2 linked regions of the Homo sapiens genome follow. The protein of the gene in region 1 interacts with the protein of each later gene in a biochemical or structural test. Each region holds a gene or a part of one and is shown on either strand. Other genes may lie near its edges.

Region 1 (16,659 bases):
CCTAAATTACTAAAATATGAGTTAACATGAGGAAAATAGTAAACTGAGTAATGAGAATGATCAATTATGTATGATGGGAGTTAAAGTCTTACAGAAAAAAATGGTGAGGGAAATCTGTTTTTTTATTTTTTATTTTATTTTATTCTTTTGAGACAAGAGTCTCACTCTCTCACGCAGGCTGGAGTGCAGCGGTACGATCTTGACTCACTTGCAACCTCTGCCTCCCTGGTTCAAGTAATTCAGTCCCACCACGCCCGGCTAACTCTTTTTGTATTTTTAGTAAAGAAGAGGTTTTGCCATGTTGGCCAGGCTGGTCTCAAACTCCTAACCTCAAGTGATCCTCCCGCCTCGACCTCCCAAAGTACTGATATTACAGGCCTGAGCCACCACTCCTCACCGGAGAAATCATTCTGATACCATGAATTATAAGTAGTTGCTAAGATACTCAGAGCATCAGACACAGTTCATCTTTTGACTTGGCATTCTCTTCATCTAGAAAAGGAATCTTAGGGTCAGGTGCAGTGGCTCATGCCTGTAATCTCAGCACTTTGGGAGGCCTAAATGGGAGGATCACCTGAGATCAGCAGTTCGAGACCAGCCTGGCCAACATGGTGAACCCTGTCTCTACCAAAACAAAAACAAACTTAAATATACAAAATTAGCTGGGCATGGTGGCGTGTGCCTCTAATTCCAGCTACTCAGGAGGCTGAGGCAGGAGAATCACTTGAACCCAGAAGGTGGAGGATGGAGGTTGCAGTGAGTGGAGATCACGCCATGTATATACTTCTGAGAATTTAGGGATGATGATAAGCCTGGAATTTAATAATTATTCTCTTCCACCTTTACGAGTCACATTTTTGGAATGAGGAAAAAGATTTAATCAGTATGAAATCTGATGACATTCTTGACTTCCGTTGCCAGTTGTGTTCTGATTCCTGGGTCTTGTCTCCTTTGATGTTGGAGGCAGTGTCTACGGGGAATCTTTAGCTGGAGCATGGCCAGCTGTTTTTCCTTTGTCTGGAGATATATCCAGAAGGAGTGGGAAGGGTGCAACTTTCTTCTTTCCTACAAAGTACGTATGCATTGGTGGAAAGCAGAGAGAATCAAACTGAAATTATACGACCTGAAAACTTATTGCAGTAAATAAATTCTTGGCATCTGGAGTATTCTGTTTTAAACCAAATGAGTCATCCGTTTTTCCTTCCCCTTAAGGTATCCAAATGTTGTGAAGAAGAGATTACGTTGAAGAATGATCTGGCAAGGATCCACTGGTAAAGGGCATCCCAGAGGACAAAAATCCCTTCAAAGAGCTCAAAGGAGGCTGTGTGATTTCAAAATACCAAAAAAAAAAGAAAAAAAATTAAACAAATTCTTGGAAATATCTCAAACGTTAACAACAATATGGATTTTTTTCACACATAATGCTACTACTATGCATGTACATGAATTTTTAAATTTATAGATGTAAACTTTTAATAAAAATTGGGGTGTGGTAACCCATCATTCTATGTTTTTCTTAACATAGCTGGCACAGGGTTTAACACATAATTGCCAAAAAAATATTGCTTAAAGTTCTTTAAAAAGAACTATGTTTTATAAATGATTCTATATTATTCTGAGTTGTCAGCATATATTTACTGTTTTATGTTTTTTCACTTCCCTTTCAATACTTATAACTTTCTACCCAGAAATTTTGTGGTTAAATTTCTGTTTTCTTTCCCAAACTTTCTCTTGCTTATGGAATTAGGAAGCTTATTTTTCTGATATGCAGTTCACCTATCTTGTGACTTTTCCCCAGAATGCCAACTGGGTTGAGGGTTCAGTCTGTGGTCACGGAGCACGGTGAATTTAACCAGCAGCAGAATCACGGTTATAAGCATGCACTTAGGAGCCAGACAGTTCTGGCTCTGCCACTTTACTGCCCAACTCACTTTGGATAAGCTACTTAATTCTTTCTAAATTTGTTTCTCCTAGCATAGGATGAAGACAATAATGGTTATATCTTCTGTTTTGTGTAGGGGTTAAGTAATACACTAATGCAACTATAACACTCAGCATATTACCTGGTCCATGGTAAGATACAATAAGTGTTAACTAGTATTATTACTGAGAAAGGATCTAGACAAAATTTCTAAAGTGCTTTAAGAAACATGCTATTTTACCCTATCATCATGAAGACTCAACACCACAGTCTTTTCTTTAACAAGGTGAGCACACATGAGAGAGAAATCTCCATCACCTACATCAGGTCCTTCTGGCATCCTGTTGAGTTTACATGAGTCACATTTCACTACCATTGTGTTAATGACTAAGAGAAAACTTGCCTCTGCTTCTGTAACAAATGACAAGTTGTAATTACCTAAATCAGTAACCACTTTTGTGGTCAGTGTTTTCTTGTTGCTGTCTCACATTTACAGTGCTATTTTGTATACTTCAGTGATCAGAATACTCAGAAATACTAATTGATTGTCACACTTTAAAAAAAAACATTAAAATTATCTATTATTTGGTCTGGAAGGGAGTCTGAAAGTTGTACCAAAGTTTGGCTTCTAGCACAATGCCCTCCCACTCTGATCATCATAAATGCTCAACAAATATCTGTTGACTCTTGTCTAAACTCTTCATTTTGAAATGGAGAAAATAAAGTTTCAGAGAAGTCACCTGACAAATTTCTTCGGTCAAGACTCTGGGCTTCTGGCTGAACAGTCAGCAACACACCCCACCACGTGTCTTCATCAAATGTGCTCTGAGTATTAAGGGATTCTGGGATTAGTTACTGAATGTCTTATCTATTTTTCCTCAAGAAAAGCTTTTTATCCTCCTATTTAAATTTACAAAACCCTCTCCATACAGTCCTCCCAACCTCCACCAAGCGCTTCCTGTCTCTCTCTCTCAGTCTATTTTCCCCCGTAGCACCATCACCACCTGGCATACTACAATTTATTTGTTTATTTAATTGTGGTTTGTCTCTAGAAGTTTTCCACCTGCAAGTTAGTATTTATTTAGTGAAGTGTTCAGTATATCTCCCTTTCTCTGATTAAAATAAATACAAAGTAAGTACATGCTATGGCATTCAGTAACCTGTAGAAGATGGTCCTAACCAACATCTCTAACTTTCAGTTTACCATTGGAGACAAAGTTTGCAGCCCAACAATTCAAAATTAAAACCCTGACTCTTCCACCTTGTCATTGAGAACTTGGACAAATGACGTGAACTTTTTGAATCTGTTTTTTTTTATATATAAAATTAGTGATTAGGCTAGATTATCTGAATACTTATAATCTCTTAGATCAGAAACGGGTACATAGAAAGAAGCCTAACAAATGTCCTCTATTATTATACTTCCCGTGGACATTTTCCCACCACCTGGAATTTGGTCATACTGATCCCTCCACCTGAGATCTCCCTCCACTCCACCCCATTTCAGCCTTTTGAAATCCTACTCTTCTTATGAGACTATCTCTCCCATTCTACCTCAAGAGTATTTTGTGTGTCTCTTAAGTCATTTAACGTTACTTTACTTTTTCTCATTATAATTTCTACGGTTGTTTTAATTTCAGTACTACATTGGAGATTTCCCAAGTCAGAAGCACTGTTCATCTTTGAAAAGTGTCATATCAACTAACAAATTGTCTGGACAATGTAATTGACTTTAAAAGCAGGCAAGAGTGGTGCTTATAAAAGTTTATATTGGATCAAACTTCCTAAATGCCTCAATAATGTGTTTACATGAGGAAAATAGTAAACTAAGTAATGAGAATGATCAGTTATATATGATGGGAGTTAAAGTAATATAGAAACAAAATTGGTAAGAGAAATCATTTATTTTTATTTGTATTTTATTTTATTTTATTTTTTTGAGATGGAGTCTTACTCTCTCGCCCAGGCTGGAGTGCAGTGGTACGATCTTGGCTCACTGCAATCTCTGCCTCCTGGGTTCAAGCAATTTCATGCCACCACACCTGGCTATTTTTTTTTTTTTTTTTTTCAGTAGAGAAGGGATTTCATCATTCTGGCCAGGCTGGTCTCGAACTCTTGACCTCATGTGAGCCTCCTGCCTCAGCCTCCCAAAGTGCTGGGATTACAGGTGAGAGCCACCACTCCCAGCCAGAGAAATCATTTTGATATCCTGAATTATAAGTAGTTGCTAAGATACTCAGAGCATCAGACACAGATCATCCTTTGACTTGGCATTCTCTTCATCTAGAAAAGGAATCTTAGGGCTGGGTGCAGTGGCTCACGCCTGTAATCCCAGCACTTTGGGAGTCCTAGGTGGGAGGATTACCTGAGATCAGGAGTTTGAGACCAGCCTGGCCAACATGGTGAAACCCCGTCTCTACTAAAAAAGAAAAGAAAAAAAGAAAAACAAAATTAGCTGGCTGTGGTGACACACGCCTGTAATCCCAGCTACTCGGGAGGCTGAGGCAGCAGAATCACTTGAACCCGGAAGGCGGAGGTTGCAGTGAGCAGAGATCGCGCCATTGCACTCCAGCCTGGGCAACAAGAGTTAAACTCCTTCCCCTGCCCAAGAAAAAAAAAAAAAAAAGAAAAGGAATCTTAGGTAGGTAGTTACAGGAAACAAATGAGCTCCTGAAAATTGCCTCATGATTGTTTTAACAGATTAAAACAAATATCAAATGAACCAAGAGCGTCTGAAGTGTACTTTCTTTAAAGAAACCATAATTTCAATGGTCAAAACAGTTACTATGCACTTTTTAAATTTATTTATTTATTTATTTATATTTATTTATTTTTTTGTAGAGACCGGGGTCTCGGTATGTTGCCTAGGCTGGTCTCAAACTCCTGAACCTTTGGTCTCAAGTGATCCTCCTGTATCGGCCTCTCAAAGTCACTCTATAAATTTTAGAAGAGCAGACTTTGAAAGGTAACCTAGTTTACTTACACGAAATAAAAAAGCAGAAATAATGTGTTTCTTGCAAAAATCACAAGATAAAATAAGACCAGAATCCTGATCTTTTTTGAGTTCAAGTTAGTATTAGCTCAATTCCAGTTTAACTGCCTTCAATGTTTTATTTTTCTTTATATAGATTTTTAACAACATAACAAATCACAAAAATTGTCAAAACCTTGTTTTTCCTATTTTTGCATACCAAAGTAAAAATTTCATGGTTGTTACTCTTTTATAATTTAAAAGTGAAAATGGTTACTTTTATTTTTATTAACTAATTTCTATAAAACATTTGTGAAACGACAGTGGGCTAATTAATCAAAGTTCATTGCTGGTTGCACCTGTCATTTTTACTAAAGAATGGTTTCTACTCATACTACTTGTAAAATAAATTTTACCGGGGTACTATGTAAAATATAAGTAAAAACCTAACAAAACATTTGGACACAGCTAAACAAATTTTAAAATTTATTTATTCAAAATTTTTGAATATTGCTGATAAACTATTTCTGCAAGTATACATGAGAAATTGCTTAACATGGTTCTTCTCTGGGAGGTAAATTCGGTGTCTAGGCATAGAAGACTACACATCCTTTTGTTTAAAAAAAAATATTCTCATCATTTTACTATTTAAAACCAAACAGGGCCAGGCGCGGTGGCTCACGCCTGTAATCCCAGCACTTTGGGAGGCCGAGGCGGGCGGATCACGAGGTCAGCAGATCGAGACCATCCTGGCTAACACAGCGAAACCCCGTCCCTACTAAAAATACAAAAAAATTAGCTGGGCGTGGTGGTGGGCGCCTGTAGTCCCAGCTACTTGGGAGGCTGAGGCAGGAGAATAACGTGAACCCAGGAGGCGTAGCTTGCAGAGAGCCGAGATCGCGCCACTGCACTCCAGCCTGGGTGACAGAGCAAGACCCCGTCTCAAACAAACAAACAAACAAACAGGAAACCAGCAACAATAAAACCTTTTTCAGAATCCTGTGTGATCATGCAATTTCAACATTTTGCAATTCACTTCAGTTTAATCAATTTACTTAAGATATTAGAATATGAATTATTTAATAACAATAAAAAAGACTAACAAGTATTTTGTTTCTAATACGTCTCATAATACGATGGGAAAAGTTAAAGAACCAATATGGGCTTATAAGTATTTATCCCTCTAAGCAACTAGATGATTTCATGGGAAAGAAACTTCAAAGCCAAAATAATTATATTTTTATGACTTAGAACAAACACACATTAACAAAAAATTAGTCAGGCGTGGTAGCGGGCGCCTGTAGTCCCAGCTCCTCCGGAGGCTCAGGCGGGAGAATGGCGTGAACCCGGGAGGCGGAGCTTGCAGTGAGCGGAGATCGTGCCAGTCACTCCAGCCTGGGCGACAGAGCGAGACTCCGTCTCAAAAAAAAAAAAACAAAAAAACAAAAAAACAAAAAAAAGAACAAAAACACAATAATTTATTTAACCAATTTATTTAACTTAGGTGCTGAACCTATTTAATTTAGGCCACATTCACGTTGATTACTTTCACTAATTTAAGGTATTTTTGACCAACCTTTTAAATTTAAGTAATAGAAAATTTTAAAAATGAATTAGTGCACAAGACAGATATGGACATTTGTCTAGTCTCCCTGCTTATTTACAAGTAAACTTCAGTAGATGCTCTAACTACTCTGAGCTTGGAAAACCCTGGTATTTCAAATATTGAAAGTGAAGCTCTTAAACATTTTCTTTGTGAAAATGATTTATCATATATAGACATACCAACACAATTAGAGACACAACATAGCTTAGCTGATTCACTACTTCCCTGCCTTACTATACATTTTACAAATTAGAAAACCAAAACTAAGAAAAATTAAATGACTTCTTCAGTGATGGCCTGTGGCAGAGCTGCAACTACACGCCAGGAGTATTCATTAAGTGGTTCATTGTTTTTTTCATTCTAATTTATTCATTGAGGTTGAGCGGAGCGTGGTAAGAAACTAGGAACGAACAAAAACTCCTGCTTCCTAAACAGGGAATGGTCATGGGTGTCTTGGGTCAGCTACTCTGAAATATTAAGTTAATATTTCACTTGCCTTTGACTCTGTGAGGCAGGAGGTTATCTCTGGAAAGAAAGAGAAATATCCAACTGCTAGGGAAGGTTTCTTACATTCATGTTTGATTTTTCTTCTACTCTTTTGACCACCATCAACAAGACTTTAGTTACAGTTAAAGGGAAAGTTTTATTGCATGTAAACTTTTTTCACATCGGACACTTTTCCTGGCTTTCCAGAGCAACAGCTAGATAAATAGTGCTTGCCAGAAAGTGGAGAAACTAATACTAAATGAATCCACTGCCTACATCCAGGAAGGTTCAGGAGCCAGGAATTCAAAATCCTTGGTGTCAAGTGTCACCCAAAACTTAGGGTTGGGGAGTGGAGAAAGGCTTTCGGTTAAGAACTCTAAGATTCCTGCTTCTGTCTTCTCTTATATCATCCTTTGATGCACCCCTCTACATAACATTCCCCCGGAAAAATAAAAAAAATACAAACTCTGCTGCTGTTGAGGATGCAGATGATTATTTAATAATAGAAAATGTTCTTGCAACTTGTAAACGATATTCACACCCTGTTGCCCCCTCCTCGCCCAAAATGTATAAACCCATATTAGGCCTCGAACAAGCCGGATGGACACAAATGAGCAGAACACTGGTGGGTATTTCTGGGATTAGGGCTAAGCTTCATTTTCTTTTCAGCCTTTTCTTAAGCGTCCGCATTCTCCACTATGCATTTATTACGTTGGTGCAAAACTAATTGCACCAACCTATATATGTAATTAGAGAAAAGTAATTACTTTTGCAACAACCTATGTATGTAATTAGGGAAAAGCTATATCTAGCATATTTTTAAAACTCTTTGAGAGGTGAAGGGTAGTTATTTCCTGCTGGGTAGTGTACTCCTTTTCCTAGCTTCACAAACAAAACCCGGATGTGACTTGGAAACGGAAAAAAAAAAAGGAGCGGGGGTGCGCGGAGAACACAAAGTAAAACTTCTGCTGTTCCCAGTCCTGCAGCCCCAGCCCAGCCGTCCCCCGCGGGCGTGGCAGGTCCTGAGTCAGGGCCTGTCCGTGGCCAGCATCCCTGCTGGGCGATTGAGCAGCGGGAAGCTGCTTGGACCCAGTCTCAAACTTAACCCTCATCTAGCACCCGGGCAGGCCTCCTGGGTTGCAGGGACTTGAGAAAAGGCAGAGTTCTCAGGTCCTAGGAAGCTGGGGCACGCTGGCGTGACAAGCGTCCCGGAGAAAGCCAAGCCCTCGGGGAGCTGGGGACCGCAGCAGGGCTGCAGTCACATCCTGCGCGGGTGGGCGGCGGGCCAGGCCTTCAGTTGTTTCGGGACGCGCCGAGCTTCGCCGCTCTTCCAGCGGCTCCGCTGCCAGAGCTAGCCCGAGCCCGGTTCTGGGGCGAAAATGCCTGCCCTTCACATCGAAGATTTGCCAGAGAAGGAAAAACTGAAAATGGAAGTTGAGCAGCTTCGCAAAGAAGTGAAGTTGCAGAGACAACAAGTAAGTTGGCTGTTCCGGAATATTTCCTTCTCTGAAATGAAGCAGGGTCCGATTTTTCCTGCTTAGTAACAGTAAAGCAAATAGTTTAGCTTATTTTTCCCCCTTTTTGTAGCTTCTCTTCTCACCACCCTTTGGCAGTGCCTGGGGACTGCCAGCTGATGTGGGGAAATCCTAGGAGGTAGAGGAGGGAGCAAGGATCTGATAAGTAATTTAAGGCCAAATGTCCTAACTTTTAAGATGCCTAGGAAGGGGAAAATAGACAAGAAATCTTGCTTTCCATTAGACAGCTGTTTTTCAAAACTCACTTGTAGGAAAAAAGCGGATAGCTACTTGGTTCTTTGATCTTTTACACTACTAGAAAGGATGATATTTGAAAGAAATTTTCTAAAACCGTATTTTAAAGTCTTACAAGTACATTATTTAATTTTGAATTTCACCAGTGGCCTTCAGTGATATGCAAAGAACAGTCCACCGAAATTTGGGAACAAAATATTAGAATTTCTATATTTATTTGTAAATCTCATCCCTTTATAATTTTCACTTTATGTTTTATTAGTATGCGATTAATACAGTAGTATCTGTACTTATTTATAAATAATTATACATACACTGTGGTGCATATGAAAAATTTTTTTAGTGATCACAATTTTAAAGTTTTAGAGACTATTGATAGAGATTACCATTTCATTGAGAACATATGACCCAGTATTCAATATTCTCCACTGAAACGTCTCGGGAGTTTTATAAGTTTTACTTCAATTTCTTACTGGTCATCAAGACCTTCCTTCAGACACTAATCCCTCTTCCTGTTTTAACTCAATCAGGCATCCTGTAGACTAGGAAAGGTCTTTGAATAGATATTGTTTAAAGATAATTAACCTTTCCTCTTCAGCAAGAAAATTTTGAACTGATCTTATTTATTATGGTTTAGCACTAGAAAAAATTAAGAAAAACAATGGAAATGAAGCGTTATAATATGCTCACTTGCCTTCCTGTTCTAGTTATAATAAATCTGTTAAGGGCAAGAGTCTTCACTGTTGAGTGATGATTAGAAGATGCAGGCATTTTTGTGTTTTACTTTTTACATATTTCTTTTCTCAAATTTAACCTTTCACATCCAAATCCCGGCTCTTCCTAGCTTTTATAATGAGCTGTCCCTTCTATCATGTTAAGGGTTTGTAGCTTTAAAAACACCAACGCGTTTAAAGGGGAAAAAAAGGAAGTTACACTACCCAATCAATAAGCACGCTTCTTGAAACCTTAAGGGACCCATTTTATGGATGGCGAAGTTCCCAGTACAGCAAGTGCTGGCCACTTAGATATGTTCACACAATAAACCTTAGGAGTTACATATTAAACAGAGTTTCATATGCTGAAGTACAGCATTGTCTATGCAAGGTTCTAATATCTTAATATTTGGTATCACTGTGTAGAACTTAGGAAAAAAGACAAGCGTCTTCTACTTACTCAGAGTTTTAAGTTAAGTGATGTGGATGCAACCGACTATGTAAAAATTGACTGTATCATTCATTAGCAGTTTCTCCCTGCTAGCCAGCCTGACCCTTTAGGACACGGCCTGTGGCATCAACTTCCCACCTCCAGAAACCTCAAGTGTATGCCAGAGGGAGAAAAAACTTTGGATATATGTAACCTTAGGAAATACAGAAAGAGGCATCTAAATCTCAACAATAATATTAAGACATTTGATTATACACTTGGAATTATACATTATTATTGCTAGGCAAGCATTGGAATGTTTAGAGATCATTCATCTCCCTCACTTTAAGGATTAAAAAAAACTTGAGTCCCACAAAGGCTAACTAGCTCCACATTTAAGACCACAGAGATAGATAGTGATAGGGCAGGTACTAAAACATTCTTCTTCTCATTCCCAGTCCATTATTCAGTCAATAAATAGTTAACATCTGGGCTACGTGTTCAGTCCTTAACTTAGGCCCAGACAAAACTTGCAAGTTGCATTCTGGCTGTAGTTAAATGTTTATCAAACATGTCCTCTTGATTATGGAAGGAAATGTATCAGAGGAGCAATTACTCACATTTGGAGGTTACAGACCTCTTCTGAAACCTAATGAAAAAACCTTGTAAGAAAAGATTCAATGTAGGGAGCATGTATCTTGCTGAGAAATTAACCTGGGACGACAGACCCTAAATTATGACACGTGCATTATCAACTCTAAAAATTCACTTAAAATGCATGCACTCTGAATGTCAACAAACGAGAGCAAATGTTACCTGAAAGAATTGTATTTGAAAGATTTTATTTTGCCAGATTTTAAGTCACACAACTACATCACCTAGTTTTCAATTTGAGGTCAGAGGCTTCCACACTGATTTGCAGAGGATAATCATTTGGGGTGTGGAAGTAAAATGTTAACATTGCTATTTCTGTTTAGTTTTAAACCTCACCCATTTATAATTTCCAGTTTATGTTTTATAATTTTGCATGATGTATTAACAAAGCAGTGTCTGTACTTATTTGTAGTTAAAAATTATATTCATTTTGGGATACACATGCAAACATGTTTTAGTAGTAACCGTTAAAACAGTTTGAGGTTACTAATTTAGATTACTAATTCAATGGGAACATTTGCCCAGTTTTCATAGGTCTCCATTTAAATTTGCTGGTGCGGCCTGGCGCGGTGTCCCACGCCTGTAATCCCAGCACTTTGGGAGGCCAAGGCGGGCGGATCACGAGGTCAGGAGATCAAGACCATGCTGGCTAACGTGGTGAAACCCCGTCTCTACTAAAAATACAAAAAATTAGCCAGGCGTGGTGGTGGGCGCCTGTAGTCCCAGCTACTTGGGAGGCTGAGGCAGGAGAATGGCTAGAATCCGGGAGGCGGAGCTTGCAGTGAGCCGAGATCCTGCCACTGCACTCCAGCCTGGGCAATAGAGCAAGACTCCATCTCAAAAAGAAATAAATAATTAAATTAAATTAAATTTGCTGGTACTTCTGTAATTTTTACTTTAAATTTCTTACTAGCAATACAGGCCTTCATTAAAACCCTAATTTCTTTTCTTTTGTTTTTATTCTTTTTTTAATTCATTCTTGCAACCTGTCTTTTAAGGATAGATAGACTTTTTGAAGAAACTCTTCTTTTAAGAATAGACTTTTTGAAGACACTATTCAATTTTTTCTCCATCTCAGAAAAAAATTTATTCTCAGATAAGCCTAATAAGTCTCAGATAAGTCTTTTATTATGATCATTGCCCTCATGCAGCAGGAAGAAATTCTGAGGAGCAACACAGAGTGCGATATTTGGACAATTCCAATCTTTCCAGAATCAGGCTTTTTCCAAAGCTTCTATCATTTCGTGAAATTTCAGAACATGGCACACACCCATAAGTGAGAATCGTGGCATTACACACCCCAAAACATTTGGGGATTATCTACTACTGCACCTGCTCACTAGCATGGAAAATTAAAATAAGAGTATATTTCAGTTCCTAAAATATTGTAGACATGGCATAATTGTATTTTAGCAGAGGAAGGAAATCATATGAGACACAATGGAAAAAAACTGCTGGAGATGATTTATTTAATGCAGTGACTTTCAAACATTTTTTAATTTGACCAACGACCAACAGTAAGAAATATATTTTACATAGGTTGCATCATAGGTATAGTAATAGAATAAAAATATTAGAGTGCAGAGCCCAGATTTTATATATGTATTATATATATAATATATACACACACACATGCACATATATATGTAAATGTAAAAAAATGTTTAAAAACTTATTGTATTCAATTATACTTATTTCATTAAGGCGTAGGGACAAAGTTTAAACAACCCTAACCTAATGTATTCTCTTTTTTTTCTATACTTAAGGTGTCTAAATGTTCTGAAGAAATAAAGAACTATATTGAAGAACGTTCTGGAGAGGATCCTCTAGTAAAGGGAATTCCAGAAGACAAGAACCCCTTTAAAGAAAAAGGCAGCTGTGTTATTTCATAAATAACTTGGGAGAAACTGCATCCTAAGTGGAAGAACTAGTTTGTTTTAGTTTTCCCAGATAAAACCAACATGCTTTTTAAGGAAGGAAGAATGAAATTAAAAGGAGACTTTCTTAAGCACCATATAGATAGGGTTATGTATAAAAGCATATGTGCTACTCATCTTTGCTCACTATGCAGTCTTTTTTAAGAGAGCAGAGAGTATCAGATGTACAATTATGGAAATAAGAACATTACTTGAGCATGACACTTCTTTCAGTATATTGCTTGATGCTTCAAATAAAGTTTTGTCTTGGGAAGATGAGTGTTGGTGATTTAAGAAGACACTTTTCATGCATTAACTTTTATATTTCTCCCCGTAATCTTTTGGGTGTGGAGTATGATTGGGTTTGGAATATGATTCAGAAGGTTAGGTGGTTCGACAGATCACATCTCCAAACCCTGCGTCAATGGTTTAGAGTGCTGAGTTCTGACCTCTGGAACGTGTTTGATCTAACCTTAACTATTAAGAAACTGAGCAGGTAGAATTCCTATAACATTGACAGAAGTCAGATTATCTGAGTCAGGAACAAGGCCAAGCCACATCTATGTTAGTACTTCCCTAGTTTATCATCATTTAGATCTTCTTAATAGTGTTCCTGTAGTAGTAGCCTTGAAGAAAATACTGAGTTGGGGTTCAGGAAGAGTGCCCTGCCTCTCTGCCGTGTAGTGGCCAGGCCAGCCCTGGCTTTGAGAGCCAGTACTTATTCCTGCACAGAGCTACATCTCCCATGTGCTCTCCAGGTCTTGGGCATGGCACTACTCCAGTTCTGTGGCATTGGTGCAGACACTTGGACCTCTGCACTCATGCTTGCCAGCATTTTCCAGCAGGCCTGGGCCAAACATGCCTTTTTTTCTTCTCCTCCAAAGGAACCAGTGAATCTTTGCCCACTTTAAAGATTAGTTGGTCTTTTTCTTACTGATTTGTAGGAATTCTTCATATATTCTGGCCATTTATTCGTGTTTGGTGATATGTGTTGCGAATACCTTCTCCCAGTCTGTGGCTTACCTTTTCACAGTGACCTTCCCTTCAGTGGTTTTATCCTGCAGGGCAACACGTCAGAGTATAACTCCTGCTCAAGTTCATAACAAAGGTACCTGAAGCCCAAACCTCACAAAAAGGGACCTTTCTTTCTCACCTTGAGCATTCTCCCGCTTCTTCTCCGTCTTTTGGGTCAAAATTGCTCCAAGTTTGAGCCAAAAGAAAAACGTGGAAAAACCCTTGCTGGTTAGCTCTAGCTCAAATGGACTTAGTCATTAACTTGACCTGCAATTTTCAATGTGGCACCAGAAGCCAATGTTTCTCCTTGACTAGCTCTTTTCTCCCACTTACACATGTAGGTATACCTTACTATCAAGCGAGAGAGGCGCCTGTAACCTGTAGCAGCTTTCTAAAGTATATCAGCATCCTCGTTCTGAAATTCCTTTCCTTTCCCTCTCTGGGAAAGAACAGAATACCCCAGGCTTTTGAAAAATAGTTTACACAGACCAAAAGCAGAAACTATTTCCTTCAGTTTCCTGACACTGTCCAAGTGATGACATCAATTGGCATTACTGAGAGCCCAGGGATAATTTTAGCCCAAAACTACTACTCCTAGGAAGGAGTAGTATGATCTACTACTCTTAGGAAGGATTTAGGAATAGTAAAGGTGTATTTCTTCCAAACAGCATAGAACTATTAGTACTATTAGTCATTTAACATTTAACATGGCATGGGATTTTAGAGCTTTGGTGCCTGTAAAGTTTTACTTCTATTAGCTGTTTCATTTCTTTGCACTTATAAAGTTTTCTTCTGTTGCCTATGAAAGCAAACATTTATTCCGGTTACTGGCAAGGCAGTTTAAATCACCTGCTTCTTTCATGAAAGGCCAAGACAATACATTTATTCCCTAACTTGTTGGGAGTTGCGATTACAAGTCTATATCCTGATTTCTATTAGCACATTCAGCTATCCATTTGTGTACACTCCCAAGTCCTAGCTTTTGCTCTTCATGTCTCTTTCAACCATATGATCAATCAGTTGGACGACTTCTGGTTTTTCCTGAATAAATATCTAATCTTATAGGTGCTTCTATTAAATATAATTCTGTTTCTTTTTCTTACCATTTATCATTATAACCCAGCCAACATGTAGAAGTGCAATAAAAATATTTTAATTTTCAACTGTTCAACTGCTAAAATTATTAGCTTGTAATTAAAAAAGAAAAAATACATCCACTATATATTTAGATATATTGTAAATGTAACCTTTGGTGACTGATAATTTGTTAAGTAGAATTTAAATTATGTATCCAATTTATTCAAAGTGTATAGTTGTGTAATTATTTACTATTTGATTAAAAATAGTTATCATGCATTGTGTAGTGAGACTTAGGTTCTATAAACTCATATAGAATTAGAAAAATCAGGCCGGGCAGGGTGGCTCACGCCTATAATCCCAGCACTTTGGGAAGCTGAGGCAGGCAGATCACGAGGTCAGGAATTTGAGACCACCCTGACCAACATGATGAAACCCCGTCTCTCCTTAAAAATACACAAAAAATTAGCCAGGTGTGGTGGCGCACACATGTAATCCCAGCTACTCAGGAGGCTGAGGCAGGAGAATCACTTGAACCCTGGAGGCGGAGGTTGCAGTTAGCAGAGATCACGCCACTGCACTCCAGCCTGGGTGACAGAGTGAAACTCCATCTCAAAAAAAAAAAAAAAAGAAGAAAGAAAAATTGGGCTTTTCTATTTCTAGGCAGAAGCTACCTTAAAGCTCACCCACACTTGGTATTGTGAGACCAAAATTTTTTGTATGCTAGATGCAAATTAATATCTCACCATTGTCTAAATTTGCATTTCTTTGATTTCCAATGATTTTTAGTCAGTTTTCGTGTGTGTCAATTTTCTCTTTTGAAGATGCCTGTTCTCCTCCTTTGCTGGCAACCACTAATTTGTTCTCCATCTCTATAATTAGGTTACGACTGCTGCATAAATTAAATCATACAGTAGCTATCCTTTTGAGGTTGGCTATTATCATTCAGTATAATTTCTTTGAGGTTCATCCAAGTTGGTTGTGTGTATCAATAGTTTATTCCTTTTTATTGCTGAGTAGTATTTTATGCTACAGAGGTGCCACAGTTTACCAATTTATCCATCAAAGAATGTCTGGGTTGTTTTCAGTTCTCTGCTAATGCAAGTAGAGGTGCTATGAACATTCATGTACAGATTTTTGTATGAAGATAAGTCTTTGCTCATCCGGAATAAATTTTTAGGAATACATTTGCTAGGTTCCATGGTAAATTTATATTTACTTTTTAAAAAAACTACCAACCTGTTTTCCACAGTGATTGTACCATTTTACATTCCCATAAGCAATGTATGAGCAACTCAGTTTCTCTACATCTTCATCAATATTTGGTGTTATCACTATTTTTCATTTTAGCTATTGTGGATAGTAATATCTCATTATGGTTTTAATTTTATCTCTCTGATAGCTAATGATTTTGAACATTTTCCGTGTATTTGCTATGTGTATACCCTCTTTGATGAAATGTCTATTCTTGTGTTTTGCTTATTTCTAATTTGTTTATTTAATGTTGAGTTTTGAGGGTTCTTTATATATTTGGGATATAAGACCTTATTAGATATGTGATTTGTAAATATTTTCTTCTATTCTATAATTTGTTTTTTAAACCTTTTAATGCTTTTTTTAATCTTACAGAGTAGATGTTTTCAATTTGATGAGGTCCAGTTTATCCATTTTTTGTCTTATAGATCAAGATTTGGGTGTCAAGTCTAAAAAATATTTATCTATTCCTCATCCCAAAGACTTTCACCTGTGTTTCTTCTAAAAATTTTATTGTTTTATGTTTTATATTTAGGTCTCTAATCCATTTTAGTTAATTTTTGTATGCGGTGTGAAGTTTAAATATAGGCCTGCTCGCCCCTTCCTTCCTTCCTTCCTTCCTTCCTTCCTTCCTTCCTTCCTTTCTTTCTTCTTTCTTTCTTTCTTTCTTTCTTTCTTTCTTTCTTTGCCAGTAGTCTAATTGCTCTAGGATCACTTATTGAAAAGGTTATTCCTTCTCCATTTGATTGCTTTTGCTACTTTGCCAAAAATTAACTGGGCATATTTGTGTGAATCTATTTCTAGGTGTCCTTTTCTATTTTATTCATTTATGTATTTATTCCTTTACC
Region 2 (16,275 bases), on another chromosome or scaffold:
GAGTACAATGGCATGATCATAGCTCACAGCAGCCTTGAACTCCTGGGCTCAAGTGATCTTCCTGCCTCAGCCTCAGGAGTACTGTGACTACAGGCATACACCACCACACCTGGCTAGTGTTTGTTTGTTTTTTTTAATCTTTGGTAGAGGCAGAGTCTCACTATGTTGCCCAGGCTGCTCTTGAACTCCTGGGCTCAGCGATCCTCCCACCTCAGTCTTCCAAAGTGCTGGGATTACAAGGAGTGAGCTACCATGCCTTGCTGTATCAGTTATTTATAAGCTACTTCGTATTTAAAAAAACTACCTAAACAGAAAACCATAAATAGATTAAGCCAGGTAAAAAGTACTCAGTATATAGGAGGATAAGCTAGTCATAGATATCTGTAAATTAGGGTAAAGTGAAAATAACATTTTGAATGACAATCAAAATGATTATCAAATGGTCAGAATTGAGGGGGAGGGGTGTTAAAAGAAGGTAGGATACTGCTTGAGTTAGGTTACCTAAGCAGATCAGATGCCAAACAGTACAGATATGACTAGAATGTCCAAAAGTACCATAATTGCCAAGGATTTTAATGTTTGAGAAACATTCTAATTTTATAACAAGACATTTTTGGGGAAAAATTAGTAAGCTTTTCTTTATCATACACTTATTGAAAGTCACTTTTTTTACATGATTTTATAGAAAACATCAGAGAAAGTAAATGCTGTGCTAACCCCATCCCCACCTCTTTGCCGTAGGCCAACCTGGTTAGAATAATAGAGTTTTAGAGCAGGCAAAGTTAACCCTCTCTATCTCTCAGCCCATTACTTTTATCAAGTTGAGATGTTCTCTCATAATTTGCTAAAGTCTTTATGAGGAATGAGTGTTGAATTTTTGTCAAATACTTTTTGTCCGTCTGTTGAGATGTTCGTGTGGTTTTTTTTCAGCCACTTAAAATGGTGTGTTTACATTGATTTTCTCCTGTTTTTTTTTTTTTGTCAAAACATTAGTACCATCTTTTACAAATATAAGTAAATATAGAGGCTTCCTTTTGGAATAAAATGATTCAAACAAAGATACTGTATATATAACAGTTTTCCTTTTTTCAGATGAAATTATGACCAACTTCATTATATTTTTATAATATTTTGAAATTCAGTGATGATTTTAACAGTGACATTTCTCACACTGTTTAGAATGTTAGGCTTAGAAATGAAACTATAATAGTTTCATTTGTGGCTGAGCCCCATATATTCACTGAGTGAGTTGCTGAAATTTTCCATTTGGCTCTATATTTGTGGGGCCTCTAGGTGTCTCTCAGCAGTAAAGACACTTAATAATTGTAAACTGTGATTATTAATTTCATTAACTCAGTGCCAGATTCAGTTATTTCTATCATAGATCAAGGCTTTTTTCCTCCCCAGCCCCTACTTTATTAAGGTATAATTGACAAATTGTATATATTTACAGTGTATAATGTGATGTCGTATTAGATATGGGGCTATTTAGGTTATCCATTTCTTTTTGAGTGAACTTTCAAAGATTTTATCTATATCATCTACATTGTCATATTTATTGGCTTACAGCTATTTATTATACTCTCAATTTTTTTGATATCTATAGAGTTTACAGGATATCCTGCTCTCATTTATGATGTTGGTAATTTCTGTTTTACTTTTTTCCTGATAGTCTGGGACTGTGGGTTGAATTGTGCCCATCTAAAATTTATATGTTGAAGTCTTAAAGCCCAGGACCTCAGACCGTGACCTTATTTGAAAATAAGGTTGGTCCAGATATAATTGGTTAAAATGAGGTCATAATGGATTGGGTGACACTAATCCAGCGTGGCTATTGTCCTTATAAAAGGGGGAAGTTTGGAGACAGGCAAGCATAGAGGGAAGATGATGTGAAGAGACACAGGAGAAGACAGTCATCTACAGGACAGTGAGAAGATTACACATCTTTCTGTCACAGTCCTCAGATATCTTGGTTTCAAGTTTCTAGCCTCCAGAACTGTGAGACAATACATTCCTTTTGTTTAAGCCACCCAGCTTGTGGTGCTTTGTTATGGCAGCCTTAGCAATGAACATATCTATCTATCTATCTATCAATCAATAAATAAATCAACTATCTCCTCAGAGAACCAGCTTTTGTTCTGAGTGATACTCTGTTGTTTTTCTGTTTCATTGATCTTTCACTCTCATCTTTATTATTTCTTTTCTACTGCTTACTTGGTGTATTAGTTCGTTCTCACACTGCTATGAAGAAATACCTGATACTGGGTAATTTATAAAGAGAAGAGGTTTAATAGACTCACAGTTCTGCATGGCTGGGGAGGCCTCAGGAAACTTACAATCATGGTGGAAGGCACCTCTCCATAGGGCAGCAGGAGAGAGAATGAGTGCCGAGCGAAGGGGGAAGCCCCTTATAAACCATCAGATCTCGTGAGAACTCACTGTCACAAGAACAGCCTGCAGGGAGACCACTCCCATGATTCAGTTACCTTCCACCGGCTCCCTCACAACACGTGGGGATTTGGGGATTACAATGCAAGATGAGATTTGGGTGGGGAAACAAAGCCAAACTGATCACTCGGATTCACTGGCTTTTCTTTTTCTAGTTTTTTTTTTGTTTTGTTTTTTTGTTTTTTTTTTTGAGACAGAGTCTTGCTCTGTTGCGAGGCTGGAGTGTAGTGGTGCGATCTCGGCTCACTGCAACCTCTGCCTCCCAGTTTCAAGCAATTCTCCTGCCTCAGCCTTCGAAGTAACTGAGACTACAGGCGCACACCACCACGCCCAGCTAATTTTTGAATTTTTAGTAGAGAAGGGGTTTCACCATGTTGGCCAGGATGGTCTCGATCTCTTGACCTCGTGATCTGCCTGCCTCGGCCTCCCAAAGTGCTGGGATTACAGGCGTGAGTCACAGCCCCTGGCCTTTTTTTTTTTGTTTTTGAGATGGAGTTTCTCCCTTGTTGCCCAGGCTGGAGTGCAATGGCGTGATGTTGGCTCACCACAATCTCTGCCTCCCAGGTTCAAGTGATTCTCCTGCCTCAGCCTCCCGAGTACCTGGGATTACAGGCATGAGCCAACACACCCGGCTGATTTTTTTGTATTTTTAGTGGAGACGAGGTTTCTCCATGTGGTCAGGCTGGTCTCGAACTCCCGACCTCAGGTGATCCACCCACCTCGGCCTCCCAAAGTGCTGGGATTACAGGCATGAGCCACTGTGCACAGCCTTTTTTCTAGTTTTTTTAAGATAGAAGCTGATGTCATTGATTTGGAACTTTTTAAAATTTCTAATACTGGAACTTAAAGCCATAATTTTTTTTTTTTTTTTTTACTGGGTTTCACTGTCACCCAGGCTGGAGTGCAGTGGTGCAGTCATGGCTCACTGCAGCCTCGACTTCCCTGGGCCCAAGTAGCTGGGTATACAGGTGCGTGCCACCATGCCTGGCTATTTTGTGTGCGTGTGTGTATTTTTTGCAGAGATAGGGTCTTGCCATGTTGCCCAGGCTGGTCTCGAACTCCTGGGCTGAAGTGATCTTTTGTCTTAGCCTCCCAGAGTGCTCGGATTTCAGGAGTGAGCCACCATGCCTGGCCCTTCTTCATGTTTCTTGTGTTTGGATCTATGAGTTTCTTTTTTTTTTTGAGTTTCTTTCTTTTTCTTTTTTTTGATACTGACTCTCGCTCTGTCACCCAGGCTGGAGTGCAGTTGCATGATCTCGGCTCACTGCAACCTCCACCTCCCGGGTTCAAGCAATTCTCTTGCCTCAGCCTCCTGAGTAGCTGGGACTACAGGTGCACACTACCATGCCCGGCTAATTGTTTGTATTTTTAGTAGAGGCGGGGTTTTATTACATTGGCCAGGCTGGTCTTGAACTCCTGACCTCAGGTGATCTGTCTGCCTCGGCCTCCCAAAATGCTGGGATTAAAGGCGTGAGCCACCGCACCGAGCCCCTAATCAGATTTTTTTTTCTGTCTCCTCTCTTCCTTCCTTTGGAGACTTTAAGTTACATAGACATTAAACCACTTGAAGTTTTCCCAGAGCTCACTCATGTTCTGTTCATCTTATTGTTCAGGATATTTTTCTTTCTGTATTTTACTTTGGATGGGTCCTATTGCTTTGCCTTCATATGTCTTTTCTGTTGTATCTAATCGGCCGTGAACCCATCCAGTGCACTTTTCATCCCAGACGTTGTTGTCCTTGTCTGTTAATTTTATCTTCTGTGACTTTTTCTGTTTTTTTCAACTGATTAATTTTTCTCCTAATTATAGGTCATATTTTCTTGCTTTTTTGCATGTCTGGTGAATTTTTATTAGATACCAGACATTGTGAATTTTACCTTGTTGGATGCTAGATAATTTTATATTCATAAAAATATTATTTAGATTTGCTCTGGGGCATAGCTAAAATCAGACTGGCCAAGTTAAGTTACTTGGAAACTATTTGATCATTATAGGGTTTGCATGTAAGTTTTGTTAGATGGGACCAGAGTCACACCGTGTGTGCTTAATTTTGCCCCACTGGTGAGGCAAAAGACTTAAAACCCCTCTTCTCAAGAAATTACGAGGTTTTTCCGGTGTATAATGAGGTTATTATGAGGTTTTCCCTCTGTCTGGAGGGGATAGGCATTATTTTTGTCCTATGTACACACCAGGGTTTGTTTCCTGTAATCTTTTTGGGTGTCTTTTGCAGCTTGATTAGTTTTCTCACACGGCTCTGCTGATCGGTACTCAGTTGACTACCTAAAGGATGTCCTCAGCATGCCTCTGGAGTTTTCTCTTTGCCAAGCATTGTCCTCTCTGACACTCTCTGTGAACTCTAGCTGCTGTGGACTTCTTGGATTCCCAGTGCTTTCTCCTCAACTCAGGGAGGCCAGTGGGCTCCAGCTGCGTTTCTCTTCCCTTCACCATGACCTTTATAAACTTTCATAGTAAGATGGTAGTAAGGTAGTAAGATGGAGCAGCTGTAGGAATGATCTTATTTATTTATTTACTTACTTATTTTGAGACAGTCTCATTCTGTCACCCAGGCTGGAGTGCAGTGGCATGATCTCGGCTCACTGCAACCTCAGCCTTCTGGGTTCAAGTGATTCTCCTGCCTCAGCCTCCCAGGTAGCTGGGACTACAGGCACCCGCCAACACGCTGTGCTAATTTTTGTATTTTTGGTAGAGACGGGGTTTCACTATGTTGGGCAGGCTGGTCTTGAACTCCTGACCTCAGGTGATCTGCCCACCTCAGTCTCCCAAAGTGCTCGATTACAGGTGTGAGCCACCGTGCCTGGCCTGTTTTATTTATTGTTTCTCAGAGGCACGCTCCTTCGTTGACTGATATCCAATGTTTTTAGAACCATGTTTTATATATTTTTGTCCAGTTGTTTTTAGTTTTTTAAGGCATGGAGCAAATCCAATCACTGTTGCTCCATTTTGGCTGGAAGCAGAAGGATAGCCAAGAAGTAAATTTTTAAAAAATATCTTAGTTGAAGAAAAACATTGAGTAGAAGGTCCAAGGGTCTTATGAAGTACTTTTTAAAAAGTAATTAAAAGAGGGGCCAGGCGCTGTGGCTTATGCCCGTAATCTCAGTACTTTGGGAGGCTGAGGCAGGCAGATCACTTGAGGCCAGGAGTTTGAGACCACCCTGGCCAACATAATGAAACCCCGTCTCTACTAAAAATGCAAAAAAATTAGCCAGGCGTTGTGGTGCATGCCTGTAATCCCAGCTACTGAGGAGACTGAGGCAGGAGAAGCACTTGAACCCAGGAGGCAGAAGTTGTAGTGAGCTGAGATTGTACCACTGCACTCCAGCCTGGGTGACAGAGCAAGACTCTGTCTCAAAAATAACAAAAAAAAGTAATTAAAAGAAACCAACACATCCTGTTGAATTTAAGAGTATCAAAAGATGGGAGAAAATTCAAGATGAAAACGCAGATTACCTAGATATAAAAGATTAAAAACCAAGCTAACCTCACACTTTTTCACAATAGACACTGCTGAAAGGCTCCTGAACAGTATCTGCCAAGTGTTAAGGGAGAAATACTGTGACCCAATAATTTTAAGTATCAGAGATCATAGTCATGATGTGGGGAGGAAATACACTACATATAATACAGGATAAGAGATTAAGACCAAGAATAATCACTTAAGGCATTACACGTAAATGATTACTGCTATTAAAAGATACAGAATAAACTGAACTATAATGTTGTATGCAAGAAACACACCTAAAACAAAATGACCCAGGAAGGCTAAATGTAACAGTAAGAGAGTGGGTAAGTCATAAACTGGAAGGAAATCTGTAGTAATATTACTATATTACTATTAACCGAAGTAGAATTGGAGCAAAAACTATAAGATGAGAGAAGTTTTATCTTAATGAAAGGGACAGTAGTGATGCTATAACATTGAAATTCATAAAACAAAAGCCATTAAAAATTCAAGGACCCAAAACACCATTGTGTAGGAGACTTTAGTAGACAACTTGGAAATACTGATATCTTAAGAAGGCACGAAATAAGATGCTGAGGATTTGAATAGTGTTATTTAATAATGTTGACTTGAGAGTATATTGTAAATTGCACCATATTTGGGTTTTACCAAATACACAGTATATTACCTTTCTAAAATCTGAAAAATTCTGAATTCTGAAAAAGAACTGTCCCGAGGGGTCCTTATAACCCTATAAGGATTGTGGACCTTTTATCTCCTTGCCATTCGTTCTACAACAGCCACACACACACACATATATATTCTATAAATATTAGTACTTGCTTTAAATGTTTCAACATGACATATGGAGAACCAGAGCCAGTATTTGTTGAATACTTGCTGTGTTCTGAACAATGGGCTGTGTACTTTGCATATGTTATTTAATTCAGTCTTAATCACCACTTTGAAATGGAATCTGAGGCTCAAAATATTTAAGAATCTTTAGTGCCCAACATCGCTCACCTGGTAGGTAGCCAAGTTGGAATATTAATCTAGATTTGTCTATTATTACATTGCCTCCTATGATTGTGCATACATCTGTAGAATAAATGTTTGTTACTTTCCTGTCTAGTTTTTCCCAAATGGATATGCCTTCGCCACTGGCTCTGATGATGCCACTTGCCGGCTCTTTGACCTTCGTGCAGATCAAGAGTTATTATTGTATTCTCATGACAATATCATCTGTGGAATCACTTCTGTAGCCTTCTCAAAAAGTGGGCGTCTCTTGTTGGCTGGTTACGATGACTTTAATTGTAATGTATGGGACACGCTAAAAGGAGATCGTGCAGGTTAGTAAATAAGTCCACATTAGGTTCTGATTTTCAGGAAGCGTGAAGAGGTTCCCATCAGTTGTGTTCTAGGCCTCCATGGACATCTTGGAGTTGTGGAAAGTGGTAACCCGATGGTTCTCATCATGTTCTTTGTTGTTACCTTTTGTTTGTGGTTATAATCCATAAGCCATATTTACACTTTTGCTTTCTGAAGAATCACACTGAGGTCTGTAATATTTTCTTATTTGGTAGACTTCAGAATTAAAGATGGATAGTGAATGTGATTCAGTGTGGTCTTTTAGAAATCACACTTTTCTTATCACCTGACAGGAAACATTGTAACTGCTGGTTTTCTTCCTTCTGAAGCAGATCTTGTATGGGACAGGACATAGACCTGTCGCTTCCCTTAGCCCCATACCCTGAGTCCTCCTCTGCAGCTTCTACAAGATGACAATACACATTAAGCCATACTGGGGACTGTCATTAATAACAAGTCATACAGAGTAATTTTTAGCTATTTTTAAAAATCAAAATTATACTTAAAGGAATCCAGTTGTCCTATATAGCTTGTTACCAAAACACAGCAGTTGCTTCATCCCCAACCCATAGTTTCTGCTCCCCAAAGTAACTACATTTAGTAATTTACCTACCCCTCCTCTCTCCCCGCCCCCTTTGTTTTGTTTTGTTGGGACAGGGTCTCTTTATGTTGCTAAGGTTGGTTTCTTCCCGCCTCAGCCTCTGGAGTAGCTGGGATTACAGGCTTGAATCACCTCACCTGGCTTACTTACATATCTCTAAATAACATGCCTGTATTGCTGTTACTTGTTTAAAAAAATAAAAATTCAGGTGTTATCTGTTGTTGACCTATTATCATGGATGAGAAGGGTTGGGTTTTAAGCTGCTCCTGCCGTAGCCATGTTCTTCCCAACCAGTTTTTCCCATATGATAGATTTTGTTTAGAACCACATTCACTGTTTACATAATTCCGACTTTTTAAAAAGTCATTTGCTGCTGAGCCATGAGATGTGTTATGACTTCTTTTGCCATGCAGCTTTTTTGTATTTTCTAGAGTTAATTTTTTGGTTTATATTCTTAGTTTCTATGTGCTTCTCACTAATGAATCTTCACACTTTATGCCAGTTTTGATGTGTCTCGGAGCGGATCCATTTTCGTTCATTGTGCTGGGTATTTAGTGAGCCTTTTTGATCCGGAAACTCATTACCCTATAGAACAGGGACATTTGGGGGTGGGGGCTTGTTGAATTTTATTTCTTCTCTATTATCATCATTCCCTTTTTCTAGATCTCCCATTATGTTGAAAATGGGCTTCCTGGACTGATCCTTTTGACTTTTTTTGTTTTTTAAGAATTTTTATTTTACTTAACTTTATTTTATTTTATTTTATTTTTTTGAGACGGAGTCTTGCTCTGTTGCCCAGGCTGGAGTGCAGTGGCATGATCTTGGCTCACTGCAGCCTCTGCCTCCCAGGTTCCAGCGATTCTCCTGCCTCAGCCTCCCGAGTAGACTAGCTGGGATTACAAGTGCACACCACCACGCCCAGCTAATTTTTGTATTTTCAGTAGAGGTGGAGTTTCACCATGTTGGTCAGGCTGGTCTCGAACTCCTGACCTCAGGTGATCTGCCCACCTCAGCCTCCCAAAGTGCTGGGATTACAGGCGTGAGCCACTGCGCCCGGCCTGACTTTTTAATTATATTTTTTATTTTCCATCTTTTTTGCTTTATCTTCTGGGAGGAAACCTCACCTCAGGTTTCCACCCTTCTGTTAAGTTTTGGTTTTCATTTTCGCTACCATCTTTTTAACTTAAGAGCTATTATTAGTGAAAGAATTTTTTTTTTAAGTTTCTTCTTCAAGCATCATCTTTTGTGTTTCCAAGTTTTTTTTTTCTTCATTTTTGGGGTTTCCTGTCTTTATTTTTAGAATATTTCCTTAAAAGTGTTAATTCTTATTCATACTTAAGAGCGAGGCACTAAAACCATTTGAAGCTCTGGGCACGTGGCTGGTGTGCTGACTCGGCCTCCATTTACTCTAGGCTGGCCGTTCACTGAGGAAGCTTTGCTGTGTCTGCCTTTCTGCCTTTCTTCCTTTTTCCATCTTCCACTTTCCTCCATGAAGTGTATAAACTGGCTGCCAGTTTGAGGGCTGATTTCAAGAGAAAACCTGAGGGACCACAACATTTAGCTAGTAAACTTTATTCCCCATTTCAGCACAGTTTTATCAATCGCATCTGTGCCTGTTTTCTTCCAGTCAGGAGACCCTGTTTTACCCTTTCCTCTGAGTGAGTCTCTGGCCTTACGCCACAGCGCAGGATGATCTGTCACCTGACTGCAGAGTGGAGGAAGGGGACACCTGGGGGCTCTTACTGATTGATGAACACTTTCCAGCACAATCTTATTTTACTCTGCCTTTGCCCCTACCTGTTCCAGAGATACCTGGTTCTACCTAGTAGGGACACTTTTGGAGAATCTGCAGTGTAATTTTGTTACTTGGCTTACTATTCATTTTGAACTCAGTATTTTGGGGTTCATTAACACAGTTGCCACCATCCAGCTTACGAAAGTTCGTTGCCATTGCCTGCTCTCATCTCACTGTCCTTGTGGATTTATGTCCTTACCCTTTTAACCCCCGCTATGCAGTTGTTGGGGTTCCTGAGGGAGCAGAGGCAGTGTAAGTTTTTTCCAGGAATAATTTTCTACAACCTCTTTCAAGAGACTGCATGGTTTGCAGTTTTACACTTTGCAAGTAGATTCCTGGAAGTATTCCGTTGCTTAAGGCCAATTACCTTTTAAAGATATTTGGTGTTTTGCCTGGATTGAAACAATTAGTATCCATAACAAAATAAAAATGTGCTTGTTGTCCACACTTATATGCTTGAGGTTTAGTTTTGCTTTGCCTACAAGCTGGTTTCAGGTTGGCTCAACTGGAACTTTGAACTTAAAATTGGATCCTGACTTGTGAATTGCTAATTCATTTCCCTCTCCAGTGTGACTTAAAGTATTTAGCCACAATGTTCATTTTTTTTGTTATTTCAACTCATAATGGTAAATTTTCCCATTGCCAAACATGGCCATACTGGAGATACTATAGAGAATATTAAGAGTTACAAGATGAACTTCTGTTCCTGATTGATCGAAAATGATATGCTTAAGAATAGAGAGAGAGAATGCAAATTCAAACACTGTATTTAAAAATTTTGAGCATTTGATGTATTCTAATTTTTCTTATTAATCTTACTGTATTTCTTGTTTTCTTCCAAAATACTGGAAATACATCAAATGAGTTTAATGTGTGAAAGAAATGAAAACTAGATGAGTTTCATGGTTTCAGAAAGTTATAACCAATAACATTCCAGAGTTTGGTGATTAGCATAAGAAAGTAAATGAATTATGTTGGTATTCTTGGAAGCAGTGATGTGAGGCAGCTTTGTTCTTACGTTTTTGTCGTTCCTGTGGTGAAGGGCTCCTTCAGTGAACTTCATTGAAAATCTTGTTTTTGTTGAGAATAGCATACATAGCTCAGTAGCAAAATTTGGAATATCGAGAACTTATTAGAGATGTGGAATAATTGTCTGCATATGTTTTCCTAGATATAAGTTGAATTATAAGATGATTTTTCAAAAATTAAAACCACAAATTGATGCATGTCAAAATTCAAATAATCCAAATTTATAAATACATCCAGCTTACTCCTAACTTGTCTTCTTACTCAGAGAAATTTGTTGTTTTCTTTTAAATTATTATTATTTTTTAACTGATGAACTTTCAAGAAAACTGGACTGATAGTTTATAAGCACCCTTTTAAATCTCTGCATATACTTGTTTAATTCTAAAACCCTACAATTGCCAATTTTTTACTGAATTTTTTTTTCAGGTGTCCTTGCTGGTCATGACAACCGTGTGAGCTGCTTAGGTGTAACTGATGATGGCATGGCTGTGGCAACAGGCTCTTGGGACAGTTTTCTTAGAATCTGGAATTAACAGTGTCATACATATTTGTTCTCCATTGATATATCTGGAGAAATCAATGCTACAGCCTATAGCTGTGAAAAAATTCTACCTTATATTTGCAGGTGAAGATTTTTCTATTAGATTATCTACAAAAACAAGCTTTCAGTAAACTACCAAAAAAAAAGTGGGGGTGGAGGAAAAAAGGCAAAGGCGCCTTCTGAGATCAAAAGGACCAGTGTATTAATTTGAGGGGTTGGGTTATTTTAACCTTGGTGAATTGTTGTGTGTACTCAGAGTGTATTTTCTTTGTGTAGAACAGAATGTACACATTATAGCAGCTCGCCATTGTGTTTGCATTTTTTAAGAAGTACATTTTTAACTTTGTATACACAAGAAATGTCATATTTTTGAGTTTTGTAATGGAAGAACCAGGCACAGAAACAGACAGAAATGATACTGTATGTGTGTGTATTTATGTCTGAAGAAAGTCCCCTTGAATTCTGATATCTCTTTGAATCTAAGAGATCCTGATAGCTTCATGTTTAAGAGCATTGACAGGTGGGGCACCTCTGAGGGGAGTTCATTGTTTCTCATGCATCATTTGCCATATACTATTAATCAAAGTGCTTGCTTTCAGTCCTTTGAGGGGACAGATAATCTGAAGGCCAGAGATTAGAGATTTCACTGATATTTTGGACATACATAAGAAACATCATTATAATTAATAAAAAGTAGGTAATAGCATATAAATGGTTCTTGACATTTTAAAAGCCTGGTTATGATCAGTTGACACTTTGAGTACCCCCCTAAATAGCTGGACTTTCCTTTTCATTTCATATTTGGAACTAAGTTTGTAGCGTATACTCATCTTTCAGAAGTTTGGTAAACATTGGGATTGTCCCTGCATCTGAACATCTTTCCCAGTGCTATCAGTATACATCTAGAGAGGAAATGCAATGTGACAGTGTTACATTTGGAGAGAAGTGTGAAATCTAACCAATCGCTAGCACATATTTGTTGTAATACGGTGGTTTATTTCATGTTTGCATACTATAAAATCTGAATTGATGTGAAATATCTGTGCCTTTAAATTTCTTAAACCTTTAAGCTTTTTGTTCTGTTTTGCAACATTTTGTAGTATTTCTTCCCTTCCTTAGCACAAAATACTGGTTTCTAAGTGGTTTTGCTTCAAAGGATGTCTAGATGTAAGTGATTCCACTTAAAGCCAAAATAAAAATTCCTAAAGCAGTTCTTAAAGGAGTTAGAGAGCTATATTAAACAGTTTTTCTGTGGTATAATAATGTGTCTCTTACTAGAAGTCCCCCACGACCAAGTTAAAGATACTTTTCCTGTTGGATTCTCTTTTACAAATAAGTCTAAATGACTGATAATAGAAGATTGTTAGTCTTGCTTGATGGTAAAGTCTTGGATTATTCTGATATATAGACGTGCATTGTTTTGTAACTTAGTTACTTTTCAGATAGGTCTGTGTTAACTTTTGAACATGTGTAACTTAACCTAAATACTCCCAAACTTTACCTCTAAATTTTTGTTTTTATGTTGTGAATGTGCTAATATGTGCATCAACTGTAAAGATGTATCAGTTTTATTAAAATCAGTTGACAATTAGAATAATAAAGTGGATAAAGGCAAATTAAGATATAGGACCAAAACAGAATATTGTAGATGGCAGTTATGAATGTATATTTATATTTTGATTAAGATTTCTATTAACTTTTTGGCTGGGCAGAGTGGCTTACACCTATAATCCCAGCAATTTGGGAGGCCAAGGTGGGCAGATCACTTGAGGTCAGGAGTTCGCGACCAGCCTACCCAACATGGTGAAACCCCATCTCTTCTAAAAATACAAACATTAGCCGGGCGTGGTGGCACATTCCTGTAATCCCAGCTACTCGGGAGGCTGAGGCAGGAGATTCGCCTGAACCCGGGAGGCAGAGGTTGCAGTGAGCCGAGATTGTGCCACTGCACTCCAGCCTAGGCGACAGAGTGAGACTCCATCTCAAATTGGAAAAAAAAAAAATTATATGAACTTTTGCTATTAATGTTTATTTGTAGGCTATTTATATCACTTCATAAAGAACAGTTCTTTGAGAAAAGAATAAAGGAATGTATTCATTTCCAGAAAAAGAGGGTTGGGGAAAGTTTGCCATGTAGGTTAGTCAGAAGAAAGCAATTCTATTATGCATAAAAATAACCTTAAATATGTAAGAGAGTATCTCCTCTACTTAAAAGTTATTATAGTAGTCACAGGCATACAGACCACAGGAATTCTATGGTCTTAACATATTTTAAAATTACATTTATTTTAATGTTCTTAAAGTTTATGAAGAGGAGTTTAAAGCAATTCCCATAATTAAATATTTACTCGGCAACTAAAAACTATTTAACACTTGTGGTTAATTATACACATAAACAAATGGCGACAGAGTAGCCTCACTACCACAATTACTTCATGGTTACACCTTTGCTTTCTAATAATAGGGGCTCCAGTTGCTAAATATATTTGTTTACTTACAGTTTAAGTTGAGCTGATTGTTGAATTCTGTTATTGTTCCTGAATTCAATGAGTATATAATTTGTAGAGATGTTGAATAGTTTGGATCTTAGTTTTTAAGGCTGAAAAATCTGGCTGGATTTAGTTTTTAAAAATTTGCATCATCAAGAATATTGCAGTTAATGTTCCTTTTTTTTTTTTTTTAAAGACAGAGTCTCACTCTGTCACCCAGGCTGGAGTGTACAGTGGTGTGATTTTGGCTCATTGCAACCTCAACCTCTGCCTCCTGGGTTCAAGCAATTCTTGTGCCTCAGCCTCCCAAGTAGCTGGGACTATAGGCATGTGCCACCATGCCCGGCTAATTTTTGTATTTTTAGTAGAGATGGGGTTTCACCATCTTGGCCAGTCTGATCTCGTACTCCTGGCCTCAAGTGATCCACCAGCCTCAGCCTCCCAAAGTGCTGGGATTACAGACGTGAGCCACCGTGCCCAGCCAGGTTTCCTTCTTTACCTTCTAAGAAACATTTAAACATAATGTGCCTGAGAAGGTTAATTTGTTGACTCTGTAGCATGTCAAGAAGAGTAGTTTTTTGAGATCTGGCAAGAATATTTTAGAGATACATATTCTTTTCTAAGTATGTTATCACCCTGTGGTGTTGAGCATATCGTCCCAAAAACCTGCTTCAGCAAGCAGTTCTTGGCCAGGCATGGTGGCTCACACCTGTAATCCCAGCACTTTGGGAGGCCGAGGCAGGTGGATCACGAGGTCAGGAGTTCAAGACCAGCCTGGCCAAGATGGTGAAACCCCATCTCTACTAAAAATACAAAAATTAGCCGGGCGTGGAGGTGGGCGCCTGTCAGCTACTCGTGAGGCTGAGGCAGAGAATTACTTGAACTCAGGAGGTGGAGGTTTTGGTGAGCTGAGATGGCGCCACTGCACTCCAACCCGAGCGACAGAGCAAGATTCCGTCCCAAAAAGAAAAAGCAGTTTTTGCCATCAGCAAGGATATCTCCTCCACTTTAATGGACAGGCCTCATTTTTGGCAGCTATGCTGTTTGAGATGTAGACTGAATATCCAAGGTTCCTCCCTAGCTCAAGTTTTTACTTGTGATTACACACACCACATTGAATTCCGTCTTCAGAGGCAAAGATTTGGGCTTCATATCTCAACAGCAAAAGGGCCTGTTCAGCAATTCCCTTCATTTTAGACTCATATGACCTCAGCGATTGCATGATAGTAGTAAACTAGTCTCCTGGAAATAATGGATGTAGGTGCTTCTAGAATATGTTACAGAATTTCAGACTTAACCTATTAATAGATAAATGGATCTTGACTTAAGGTGACAAAATGAAACTTTTATTATTGCTTAAAAATGCTGTGCCAATATTGTATAACTAGCTCCTCTAATACTTTTGGTATTTTGGATTTAATAATAAGACCTTAAGCATTTTAAATGTGAACATGTTCAGGGAAGTATGCTTTGATGTAAATGTCTCAGATCTAAGTTGTAACACAATTGAATACTTGTGGCTTATTCTTGGTTTAACTTAGGAAAACTGGTTAAACAATCCCCCATTTGGGCCTGTCATCATTTTAATAGTGACGATGTTCTTTCTGAAATCTTCAGGGTCGGAGTCAGGCTGAATTTTTTTAAAAATTAAATATTATGTTCAAATTCTTTCCTTTTTGCCATTGTGAAAAAGCAAAATTTTAAATGATTTCTCCTGTTAGAATTTTTAAAAATACCCACAGGTTGGACCATCTTTCTTATGGGTTGCACAATGAATTTATATTTTAAATTAGATTAAGTAGAATGTGAAGTACATTTCAGATTTACTAGTTTTCTTTCCATTGTTCATTTTGGGTTGCCTCAGATTCAGTGTATATTTTAAAATATTGGTTACATAATAGGTACTCAATGAAATGGTTTATAGTAGAATATCTAAGCTAGCACTTTATTTTAAAAAGTAACTTATTAATTAATCACACATTGATGGTACACCTTGTATTTAGCAAATGTTTGCATGTTGATAAAATCTCCTATGTCTTCTTTCTTAAATCCAGTTGCTGATTTTGTAAAATACAGTTGTGATAAAGCAGCATTACGGGGGGGAAAAAGCTATATTCCAACTGGTGTTAAATGTATTCAACAAAATCTTACATCATACAGTATTTATTTCTTAATTAATAGAACTTCAGTGATATACTTGGTAGATATCTCAAGCCTTTTGTCTTTTACACAATGGTGCTCTATCCTATTGTTTTCTTTTCAAAGAAGCATCTGAACACTTGCATTTCTATTTTCCTATCCAAAGGCATCCACATCTAAGTGTGTTTTTAAAGTTGATTAAAATTATTTTTCTGTTAAAGCATTCTGAAAGTGTTTGTCTTTACCTAGAATGATTTGTACACACTCGTGGTCAACTGAACATGAATGTCAGTAGTAGTCTAATTATGGGAAGGGTAAACGTGTTAGATTAAGGCTCTTAAAGCTCTAAACCATATAAACTATGGACTTGTATCATGATTTAACTGTTCTTAGATCTTTCTTACA

The links.
Region 2: the proteins of GNG11 (region 1) and GNB4 form a complex in vitro, tested with the Homo sapiens proteins (one study listed by BioGRID).

What each region holds. Positions count from the first base shown.
Region 1 is NC_000007.14:93,913,775-93,930,433, forward strand, and holds GNG11 (guanine nucleotide-binding protein G(I)/G(S)/G(O) subunit gamma-11 precursor), read left to right. Parts: upstream 1-7,960; 5' UTR 7,961-8,363; coding exon 8,364-8,459; intron 8,460-12,316; coding exon 12,317-12,442; 3' UTR 12,443-14,836; downstream 14,837-16,659. UniProt on the Homo sapiens protein: Guanine nucleotide-binding proteins (G proteins) are involved as a modulator or transducer in various transmembrane signaling systems.
Region 2 is NC_000003.12:179,396,172-179,412,446, reverse strand, and holds part of GNB4 (guanine nucleotide-binding protein subunit beta-4), read left to right. Parts: intron 1-7,040; coding exon 7,041-7,257; intron 7,258-11,127; coding exon 11,128-11,234; 3' UTR 11,235-16,275. UniProt on the Homo sapiens protein: Guanine nucleotide-binding proteins (G proteins) are involved as a modulator or transducer in various transmembrane signaling systems.